Regions from separate parts of the Homo sapiens genome. Here all the other regions are reported to be linked to region 2. The links are microRNA targets in miRTarBase. Many come from high-throughput screens and were not tested one by one. Region 2 holds a microRNA gene; each other region holds the end of a gene's coding sequence.

Evidence for each region. Region 2 holds the annotated microRNA hsa-miR-4258 (CCCCGCCACCGCCUUGG, at 954-970, opposite strand). A microRNA usually pairs through its seed, bases 2 to 8, with sites in the 3' UTR of a target mRNA and lowers its output. Matches are read on the target gene's strand: a 7mer-m8 pairs with bases 2 to 8, a 7mer-A1 pairs with bases 2 to 7 and ends in A, and an 8mer does both.
Region 1: miRTarBase lists KIAA1958 as a target of hsa-miR-4258. The part of its 3' UTR that is shown has no 7-base or 8-base seed match.
Region 3: the mRNA of SNX9 is a reported target of hsa-miR-4258. Seed matches in the 3' UTR shown: 7mer-m8 at 1,163-1,169.

Annotation. Positions count from the first base shown.
Region 1 is chr9:112,659,432-112,662,782 of GRCh38, forward strand. It overlaps KIAA1958, which reads left to right. Exons shown (of 4, transcript NM_133465.4): 4 at 1-3,351. The coding sequence ends at 638. Among named protein-coding and RNA genes, the nearest start is that of INIP, 57 kb to the right of the region's middle. RefSeq lists a silencer at 1,064-1,264.
Region 2 is chr1:154,973,673-154,976,672 of GRCh38, reverse strand. MIR4258 (microRNA 4258) reads right to left here and starts at 980; the gene lies at 890-980. It overlaps CKS1B (CDC28 protein kinase regulatory subunit 1B), which reads right to left and starts at 1,992. Exons shown (of 3, transcript NM_001826.3): 1 at 1,869-1,992. The coding sequence starts at 1,927. It also overlaps a transcript of SHC1 not described here. RefSeq lists enhancers at 1,587-1,646, 1,747-1,896, 2,347-2,496 and a silencer at 2,167-2,256.
Region 3 is chr6:157,942,677-157,945,676 of GRCh38, forward strand. It overlaps SNX9 (sorting nexin 9), which reads left to right. Exons shown (of 18, transcript NM_016224.5): 18 at 115-2,401. The coding sequence ends at 162. Among named protein-coding and RNA genes, the nearest start is that of SYNJ2, 38 kb to the right of the region's middle.

The sequences.
Region 1 (3,351 bases), not on the chromosome of region 2:
CCTCCACCAAGAAACTCAAGGAGAAGCTGTGGGTGCTGAGTAAGGCAGGCATGTCGGGCGCGCGTTCTCGCAACATCGTCTACTTCTCCCTTTCTGACGAGGAGGAGATGTGGCAGGCAGGGTGTCTGGGGGATGACAGCCCTATCACTCTCCTGTCCACTGTGGTCAAGTACAACAGCCAGTACCTGAACATGCGGACGCTGCAGGAGCATGCGGATCTGATGTATGGTGACATCGAGCTGCTCAAAGACCCCCAAAACCAGCCCTACTTTGCCCGGACGGACAGCGTCAAGCGGGAGAGTCGGAGCGGCTCCACCAGAGTGTGTCACGGGAAGATCTACCATGAGCATTCCCGGGGACACAAACAGTGCCCTTACTGCCTCCTCTACAAGTACATGTACATCCACCGGCCGCCCACCCAAATGGAGGCCAAGTCCCCCTTCTACCTGACTGCCAGGAAGGAGGCCACAGACATGGGCAGCGTGTGGTATGAGGAGCAGAGGATGGGGCTGCGCTCTCTTCGGGGAATTGTCCCAAACTTAGCCAAGAAGGTCAAGCTGGAAAACTGTGAGAACTTCACCTTTGTCTCGTTCACTCAGGTCTCCCGGAGGCTTGGCTCCCACAGCTGCTGCCAGTGAGCCCCCACTGGGGCCCGGCCACTGCCCTGTCACCTGCTCGGGCCAGCCAGGGTTGGAGCAGCTGGAGCTCCTTGGAGGCAGGGGCTGACCAGGTGTGACCTCCCGGTCTGGCGGCTCTCCCCTGGTGTGGCCTGCCCTCCCTTTGACTTGGGGTTTGCTTTTTAAAATGAAACTAGATGAGTCTAAATCATTCGGATGGTTTATCCAAATGTGCGTCAACTTCGTTAGCTTTTAGAATCTAACACAATGTATAATTGTTACATACAAGAGTGAGGAAATTCATTTTCTCTAGTGCCTTTCTAGCACAGGTTTTCTCAAAACAAACAAACAAAAAAGGAAACTGTTAAGTAGTCGTTTAAAAAAAAAATCCCAGTAGCGCAGTAGCTTTAGAACGTTAGGAAGACTGTACACTTTGTTGAATTACACTCACAATTAGAAACTAGAGAGAGGCAGACACGTTCCCTATTTCCAGGAGACAGATTGCGCTTGATGCGCCTTTTTTTTCTGTTGGTGGATAAGGTGGTTCTGGAGGGCAGGCAGCCTTGTGTCGGGGAGTATCCTCAAGCGACACTTGGTCATCTGACAAGGACTTGGGCTGCTCCCACGGCTCCCAGCAGCGGTAGGAACCCCATCTCGGCTGTCAATGGAGAGAATTTTATGATAAAAGATTCACGCACCAGAAGGGTGTCTGTGAGAACAAGGCTTCTAGTGAACTAGACAGTTTGTACCATGAGGGAATTTCTAGTAGTGAAGGAAAATGGCTTGGAAAAGCCAATCTGTGATCAAAATGTGAAAACCTCCTGAAGCAGAAGTGCCTATGTTTTATTTCTCAGCACCATGTGAGAGCTCCTTTGATTGGAACATTTTTTGAGGTTTCTGTCTGTTCTTCGTGTCATCCCATTATTCGGTCAGCATATACCACTGGATCTATAAAACAACTAAAGGTAATTTTTAGTCTTAGCCAAGAAAAGCTAACCAAACAAGCTGCAAAAAACACAGATCCCCAAACTTTCTTTATTAAAGAGATTTGGAATATTTTTGTCAATGTATGACTTTTCAGCCACAATTACATGTCATCATTTTAGGATGGCACCAATACTTGGGACACGATGATTTAGGCACCCCACCAGGTAAGCAAACTCAGCATTAAGGATGTAGTTATAAAATTAGCGCATAATGGTAGGTAATGCAGTTTGAAACCATTTCACTCAGGTAAAATGCAACCTGACCACATTATTTAAAAATCAGCAGAATTTTCTAATAACTACTCTGAGTGCAACAACAAGTGAAAAAGGAGCTCAAAGAGTGCTCATTAAGAGTAACAATAATTTCTAGGGACCTTGACTTTGCATTTGAGGAAAATCTTGTGTAACTTTATTCCATTATGCTCCTAATATGCTTTCTAATCCCAAATTAAAACTCTAATACAAATTCATTTTGTAGAAGTCTTAAAATCAGTCCTCTTTCTTTTTGAAAACATTATTTTAGTATTTATTTTAATTAATTGGTTTCTTAAAAAATCATACACTAGTCATTGACATATGTAATACTTCCTTTACCAGAGAAGACTCAACCAATGCTGCCTTAAGATTTAATGTTATTCCCTTTTTAGTCACTGTGCATTTATAAGTTTGTTTACTAGTTGACCTTTCCTGAATAGAGATTAGTTTCGGCATTTCTCCATCTGTATATAAATAACAGGTAATATTTAATCATCAGTGTATGACTTGATATCACATAACGTTCTGGTGTGGTTTCCTGTAGTGATCTTAGGGTTTTGATTTAAAAGAAATACACAAAACATTAGGTACAATTTCCTTTAGTTTGCTAAACACCCAAAGGATATTTTGTTTTGTTGGTTCTGCACTTAAACTGAAATACAACCTATGTGAACTATTGGGCAAAGCCTGCAGCCTAATTAATTAAAACCTCCATTTTTATTTGAATAGATTCAAGTAGAAATTGCCGTTAGGAATCACTGGGATCTTTTCGGATTTTGACCTTTTCAAAGGTAGCAATAACTACTCCAGAGGTTGTAATCTTTCTGTTGGTAGTGGCTTTTCATCAGCTAAATAATCATCTCTGCCTCAAATGTGTTGCCTGTCACCTAGTTGATGTTCCATAAAATCCCTGGGTTCTGAAGTGAATTATTATAATTAATAATCAGGAGGGCGAATCTTCAGTGGCATCTGATGGAATGAAAGAACTGTGTCTGAGCAGCCTAAAAGCTGTTTGTGACATGCCACCTTGGGAAACAAGAGTGAGGAAGAAAACACAGTCATCAAGTGCCAGCGTGTGCCACCCATTGTACTAGGTACTTTATTATGCATTTATGTATATGTGTGTGTGTCTGTGTATACACACAAACACATATACATAAGTGTTTACACACACACACGCACAATATGTGGTTAAGCCTGGTAAGCCTGCTAAAATGGCAAAGCGGCCTGGCGCGTGGCTCACGCCTATAATCCCAGCACTTTGGGAGGCCAAGGTGGGCAGATCACTTGAGGTCAGGAGTTCAAGATCAGGACCAACATGGTGAAACCCCATCTCTACTAAAAATACAAAAATTAGCCGGGCGTGGTGGCAGGTGCCTGTAATCCCAGCTACTTGAGAGTCTGAAGCAGGAGAATTGCTTGAACCTGGGAGGCGGAGGTTGCAGTGAGCCGAGACCATGCCACTGCACTCCAGCCTGGGCAACAAAGCTAGA
Region 2 (3,000 bases):
CTTCCAGGGGATGAAATGGTGATTCCTTCCCAGCTCCACAAATCTCTTATAAGCACATACAGTTTTAAGTTAGTTTAGTTCAGATGTAGAGGAAAACAGCTGAGGAAAAGAAAGTTAATTAAAGGAGGGTCTGGAGCCGTCTTGGCATAAAGATGATTATGTATTTGTCAATGCACATCGAGTTCTCTGGAAGACCCAAAGCCCTGAACTAGGCTGGGTGAAGAGACACAAGAAAAGCAAGTTTTCATTTTATGTTCTCCAACTGAGGAGACAAGATACAAACCAGGAAGTGGTCTTAATTATTACAATTAATACAGATTAGCATAATGCCAACATTTGTGGAATCCTGTGTCTTCCCTTATTCCCAATCTAGATTATGCACTTAAAATTTATCAAGCCCGAATGCCACATCCAGTGCCAGGATTCCATCATCACCATCCTTGGCAGATGGCTATCCAGTGTCTTCTAAACAATTTCAGTCAAGAGGTGCTTCCTCCCACATACCTTTTTCTTAGAGTCTCATCTCAGGCTCTGCCCTCTAGGAAGCTTTCCCCAACATTCCCTCTTCCGTTTTTCCTCTCAGTATTTTAAGTTTCATGTTCAAGGGTACATGTGCAGGTTTGTTATATAGGTAAAATCCTGACTCGGGGGTTCGGTGTACAGGTTATTTCATCACCCAGGTACTAAGCATAGTACCCGACAGTTTTTTTTTTTCCTGAACCTCTACCTCCTCCCACCCTCCTCCCTCAAGCAGGCCCCAATGTCTGTTGTTCCCCTCTTTCTGTCCCTGTGTTTTTATCTCCGACATATAAATGAAAACACGCGTAGTTTACTACTGGTTTCGTTTTCAATGGTGGTGAAAGAGACATCACGCTGAATTGGCCCTTAGGACACTCCCCCGCCCCCAAACCAAGCCCAGGGAAGAAGACCGACCGAAAGTAAGAGGTCAGCCTCCAAGGCGGTGGCGGGGCGGGGGGCGTTCTCGAAGCGTGGGATGGGGGAGCGTCCTGGAGTTAGCAAAAGTAGGGGACTGACTTTCTAGCCCCACCTCAACCCCCGCTCACAGCTAGGAAGCCGCAGCCTTCGGGTCGCCAGTTCCCTCTCCTTAGCAAGTCTTGTGTGCTCCCATCACACCCTGTAATGGCTCCTTGCATAGCGTGTGTCACCTTTCTGGTGTCTGTCGGTACCACCCACAGATTTTTAAATTTGTGAACAGCAGAGACCATGTGTTATCCTTGCACTTTAGCAGAACACCTGAAACCTGTTAAGTATTCCGTAACTGTTCCCTTTGATATTTAAAGGGCATCTATTAGACCCATATTAAGTATTTTCTCAATGCTCCTAGCCAGTTTTATTCCATTGCAGTCCCAAGCGATCCCCTTCCTTACACAAGCCAGACAACCACGCCCCTTGTCTTTTTCACGAGTTAATAAGCAATATTCAACTCTCTCAGCGCTACTCTCCTGTTAGGGACGCCAGGAAACTTCCAGCTCCGCTTTTGCTACGTTCTCCCACTGGATTCGACAAGATTACTGTGAAACAGTCTCTACAAGGCAAGTTAAGTTTGCCCGATAAAGTTCAGAGAATGATCCAGAAAGCCTCATGGGTGAGGGTGGTCAGTACCCTAACCACGCCCACCCCTCTCTCCTCTCTACTGAGAGGCGACTCCAAATTCGCAACCACTTTGTTTTACGAGCGCCTCCCACCTCCGCGCATGCGCCTTACGCCTTCCACAATATCACACCATTGCCCGTTCGCACCTCGTACGCATGCGCCAATTCTATCGCCTCAGTTCCTGTTACTAATTCCTTGTGCCCTCAGCGGCCAAAGCTCACGACCCTCGCTATTGCTCCCGCGCCAGCACTAACCGATACTCAAACTCCTCGTCGTCGTATTTGTCCGAATAGTAAATTTGTTTGTGCGACATGATCGCTCGGTTTGCTAGCCTTCAGCCCCGCGCCGCCAACCTCCAAGCAACTCCCAACAGCACGCGCTCCCACCCACTTTGGCCTCGCTTTCAAACACGCCGCCCGCACTTCCTATTGGTCCGTTTGGCTCGAGGCGGGACACCTCTACTTTCAAGCCTCCGATTGGCTTAGATTTACTTCTCTTCGGATCCTTATTGGAGGGCAGTTCTCACGCTTCTCAAGAACGAGCGTGGGTCAAAAGTAGGCGTCTTATTGGCCACCACTGCCTTTGTGCGCGATCTCGCGCTGCCATTGGCTAACTCGGGAAAGTGGGAAGCGTGAAGGAGGGACCCTGAGGTAGAGGGTCAGGGGTTAGTGAGGCCGGAAGTGAGTGTAATAAAGTTTCTCCAGGGAGGCAGGGCCCGGGGAGAAAGTTGGAGCGGTAACCTAAGCTGGCAGTGGCGTGATCCGGCACCAAATCGGCCCGCGGTGCGGTGCGGAGACTCCATGAGGCCCTGGTGAGTCTTGACTTTTTTCTCCTTAGGTGACTCACTCTTTCACCCCGGAACCCCTCTCCCGGGACCCCACTTCCGGTCTTCATTTATAAGTCCCGCCCCTGAGACCCCTCTCCCCGGAAGTCCCACCTCCCAACTTCAGGGGGCTCCCCCGAACCCCGACTTGATTTTTATTTTTTGTCTCCGACCCCACCCTGTCGCCCAGTTTTTCTGGAAGTCCCCACCCCCCGACACGTTCCAAGCCCTACTACGAGAAACCCTTCGTTACTCCTTCCATTCTCCGAAACTCCGCCTCCTAGCAACGATCCTCGGCTAACTCCTGTCAAAAGGCCTATCTCCCAAAAGGGCAAAACCCTGCTCTTCAAAGAACGATTCGAATTTGTTGAAGCTCCGCCCCTCCGAAGCCACGCCCCCTCCGTAATCCACGTCTGACTGTCCAGAAAGCCTCCCCGCCCAGAAGTCTGAAGTTCGCGTCCTTAGGGGACCACGCCCCCTTAGGAGCTTTATCTTTGTGGGACCTGGGTCATCAGCTGAAAAGCCTTGTCGTCAATCCCTGAAACTCCACCTGCTTATATTTT
Region 3 (3,000 bases), not on the chromosome of region 2:
TTAAAGAATTGGAATTTGTGTCATGTTTAACTTGTTGGAGTTGTGAATAAAGAACACTGTGAGGTCGTAATGGGAGTGATATCTCAACGTTGTTTTGTTTTGCTTTCTTGTCAGATTGCAGAAAAGCTGAGGCAGGCCCTCAGCCGCTTTCCAGTGATGTAGGACAGAACGGGCCTTGAAGAGAATGCCGCGTGCTTTCTCCTGACTTGGGGCAATGCAATTCAAAACTTTTTTTCCCCTATTATTCAGAAAAAAAAGGAAACAAAACCAAAAAGAAAGAGTTGCAAAAAACTGCATTTATTTTATTAGCCACCCTAAATGCGTCAGTTATTTAGGGATGGTCTTTTGTTCATTTCCGCATCCATTATTTAAACCAGTGGAAATTGTCTCTATTTTTGGAAAGTACTTAAAAGTTACCAGAATTTTCAATGGAAAATGAGGGGTTTCTCCCCACTGATATTTTACATAGAGTCATAATTTATATGTCTTATAAATTATAAGTCTTATATAATTTATAAGTCTCCCACAATCTTCCAGTTCTTACCCAGTGTCAGATAATTAATTACTAATTACTTTCTTAAAAACATGAACTATGCCAGAATAAAAAATATCTATGTTTGTATATTTTTATAACTCCTTTCAGTCCTCTGGGGCTCCTGTCATTGAGGGAAGTCGTTACGCCTTTCACTGCCACAGTTACAGCTCAAGTGCTTACACTTCAAGAGGGAGGACGCTGGGGGCCCCTGGGGCTGCTAGTGCCATCGTGGTGTGTGGCAGGTGGGCCATCCCATGTCCCTCCAGGGGGACCCCACAGCCTGGCAGATGAGCAGATACCCCTGGCCACCCATGTCCTCAGCGACATTTCTGATGTGCTGCTCTTATGTGAGGACCAGTGCTTTCTCTCTTTGCACTTCCTTCCTAATCTTGGTTAAGGCATGTTTTATGCCATGAAGAATACATTAGAAGAATTGAGGGACTTTGTAGAGAATTTTGTGGCTTTGGTCCAACGGGTGAGTGGCTGTGCGGAGGCCTGTGTTCGGGAGGGCCTGGGAGAAGGAGGGCACCCAGCACCCCGGCGTCTCTGGCCCTTTCTTATTCTTTGGCTCCTCATCCACCGTGATGAGAAGCGCTGCTGTGGCCACGGCACACTGCTTGGCTTGGGTGGCGGGTTCATGGCCAGTTGGTGTCATCAGCAAAGAGAAAAAGCACAGGTTAGCTCCCCATTAGATGGAAAAGTGTAGGGACTGAGAAGGGCTGCAGCCTCAGCAGTGTACAGAGTCCCCGGCGCTCTGAGGTTGGAGAGAAAGAACAGACCAGCGCCCTTCCCGACTACATCCGAAACTTCACACAGGGTGTTTCTGAGCACCAGCACTTCCAGCGCTTCACTTAACGGCATAAAGCAAAACAGGACCTTGGCACACCGTCAGCTCGAACTCAACACTGGCAGCCACCGTCTCACCCCTGCGGAGGAGCGCTCCCGTCTCCCACAGGTGCCTTACCGCGTTCCCTCCCGCTGCTTTCATTTTTCTGACCTAATAATTACGGGAAATGGAAAGTCTGGGCCAGCATCAATAAAATGACACCAAAAATAAGTAGATGAAATCAAATGAATATGAGAACATCTTGTTCTTCAATATCACGGGTTTTTGTTAATGTTTCATAAGTAATTCTCCCCACTTGATTTTTCTTCTATAAAATCCCATAGAACAATGTTTATGCTATAGCCATTTAATATATGTACAAATTGTAAAGAATATGTATAAATGTTTTACACGAATGTAAGAGCATGTAGAAGCCAACATATAAATAAATTGTTTAAAAAAACTGTACAGTAAATTCTCAAAGCACTTTTTCAAAACACTTTTTGGACTTTGTGTGTGATTTTTGTTGTTGTTGTTAAGTACTTTTTATTCCAGCTGCTGAAAATGGTCCAGGTAATGAATTCTTCCCCAAATCCTATTTCTTCTGACATGAATTCATCATTTCAGTTCCGTAGGTCAGTGTTGCGGTCCGGGAAGCGTATCATAACCACCTGGGAGTTGCCAAGAAGCAGACAGTCTCCCAGTGTCTGACTCTCGGATATTTGGATTTGACTGGTGTGAGGCAAAGTGAAAAAGGGATGGGGGAAATGGAGATGGCACGGGCTCCTCAGAGCGTGGTAGCCGACTGTGAGGAAAAGCAGAGGGAATGTGAAAGAAAATAAGAGAATCCACGGGATTTGATGCCTGGAAGATTCTCCTTCAAGTGGCAACATGGCATATATATCCTTCTCCGGGGAGTCACATGCACCATTTGGTTCTTAGATACGTTGATGTTTTGATTTTTAATGATTTGTATCAACCTGTAGGTACCACAGAAGAGCTGTAGTCATACAATCACATAACTTTTACAAATATAGTGGAAAAAAAGTCAGTATTTGGAGAGGAGAGATGAAGGCGTGGTGGAAGAAAAGGTCAGTCTCGTTGTCAAGCAAGTGACGTCAGTTGCCTCCCACCAGGAGCAGCAGTCCCGGGATGTCAACCCACTGCATGGTTTGTAGGTGTTGGGGTCACCAAGAAAGATGACTCACAGAGGCACTGGGTGGAACAACGTAACTTGATTCATTTTCTTATTGGTGACTTTATTCACTTTCTTTCTTTTGTGGTAGCTTTATTCATTTTCTTATTCTGTCATTTTAAAAATGTTTTCTTACAAAAGTACCTGCTGGGTCTGGGGTTTGATGTTGCCCTACTTACAAGCAAGTAATTTAGTCTGTTGCTGTTCCATGGATACTGGAAGGGGCCATGAGACTCGTGGGTCTACTCACATAGAGAAGAGACAGCATGATCTACTTCTGTCATGGGCTTCAGTCCCAGGGAGATGGTCTGTGGGCACCCCCCATCCCCCCGCCCCCGGTGGGCAGCGTTGACAGGCTGTGCATGGCAGCCTCTCCCGGCACCACTGGTCTACATCTTCACTAAATCCATAGATCCCTGCCTAACAACTGGGAATCCAGAATCT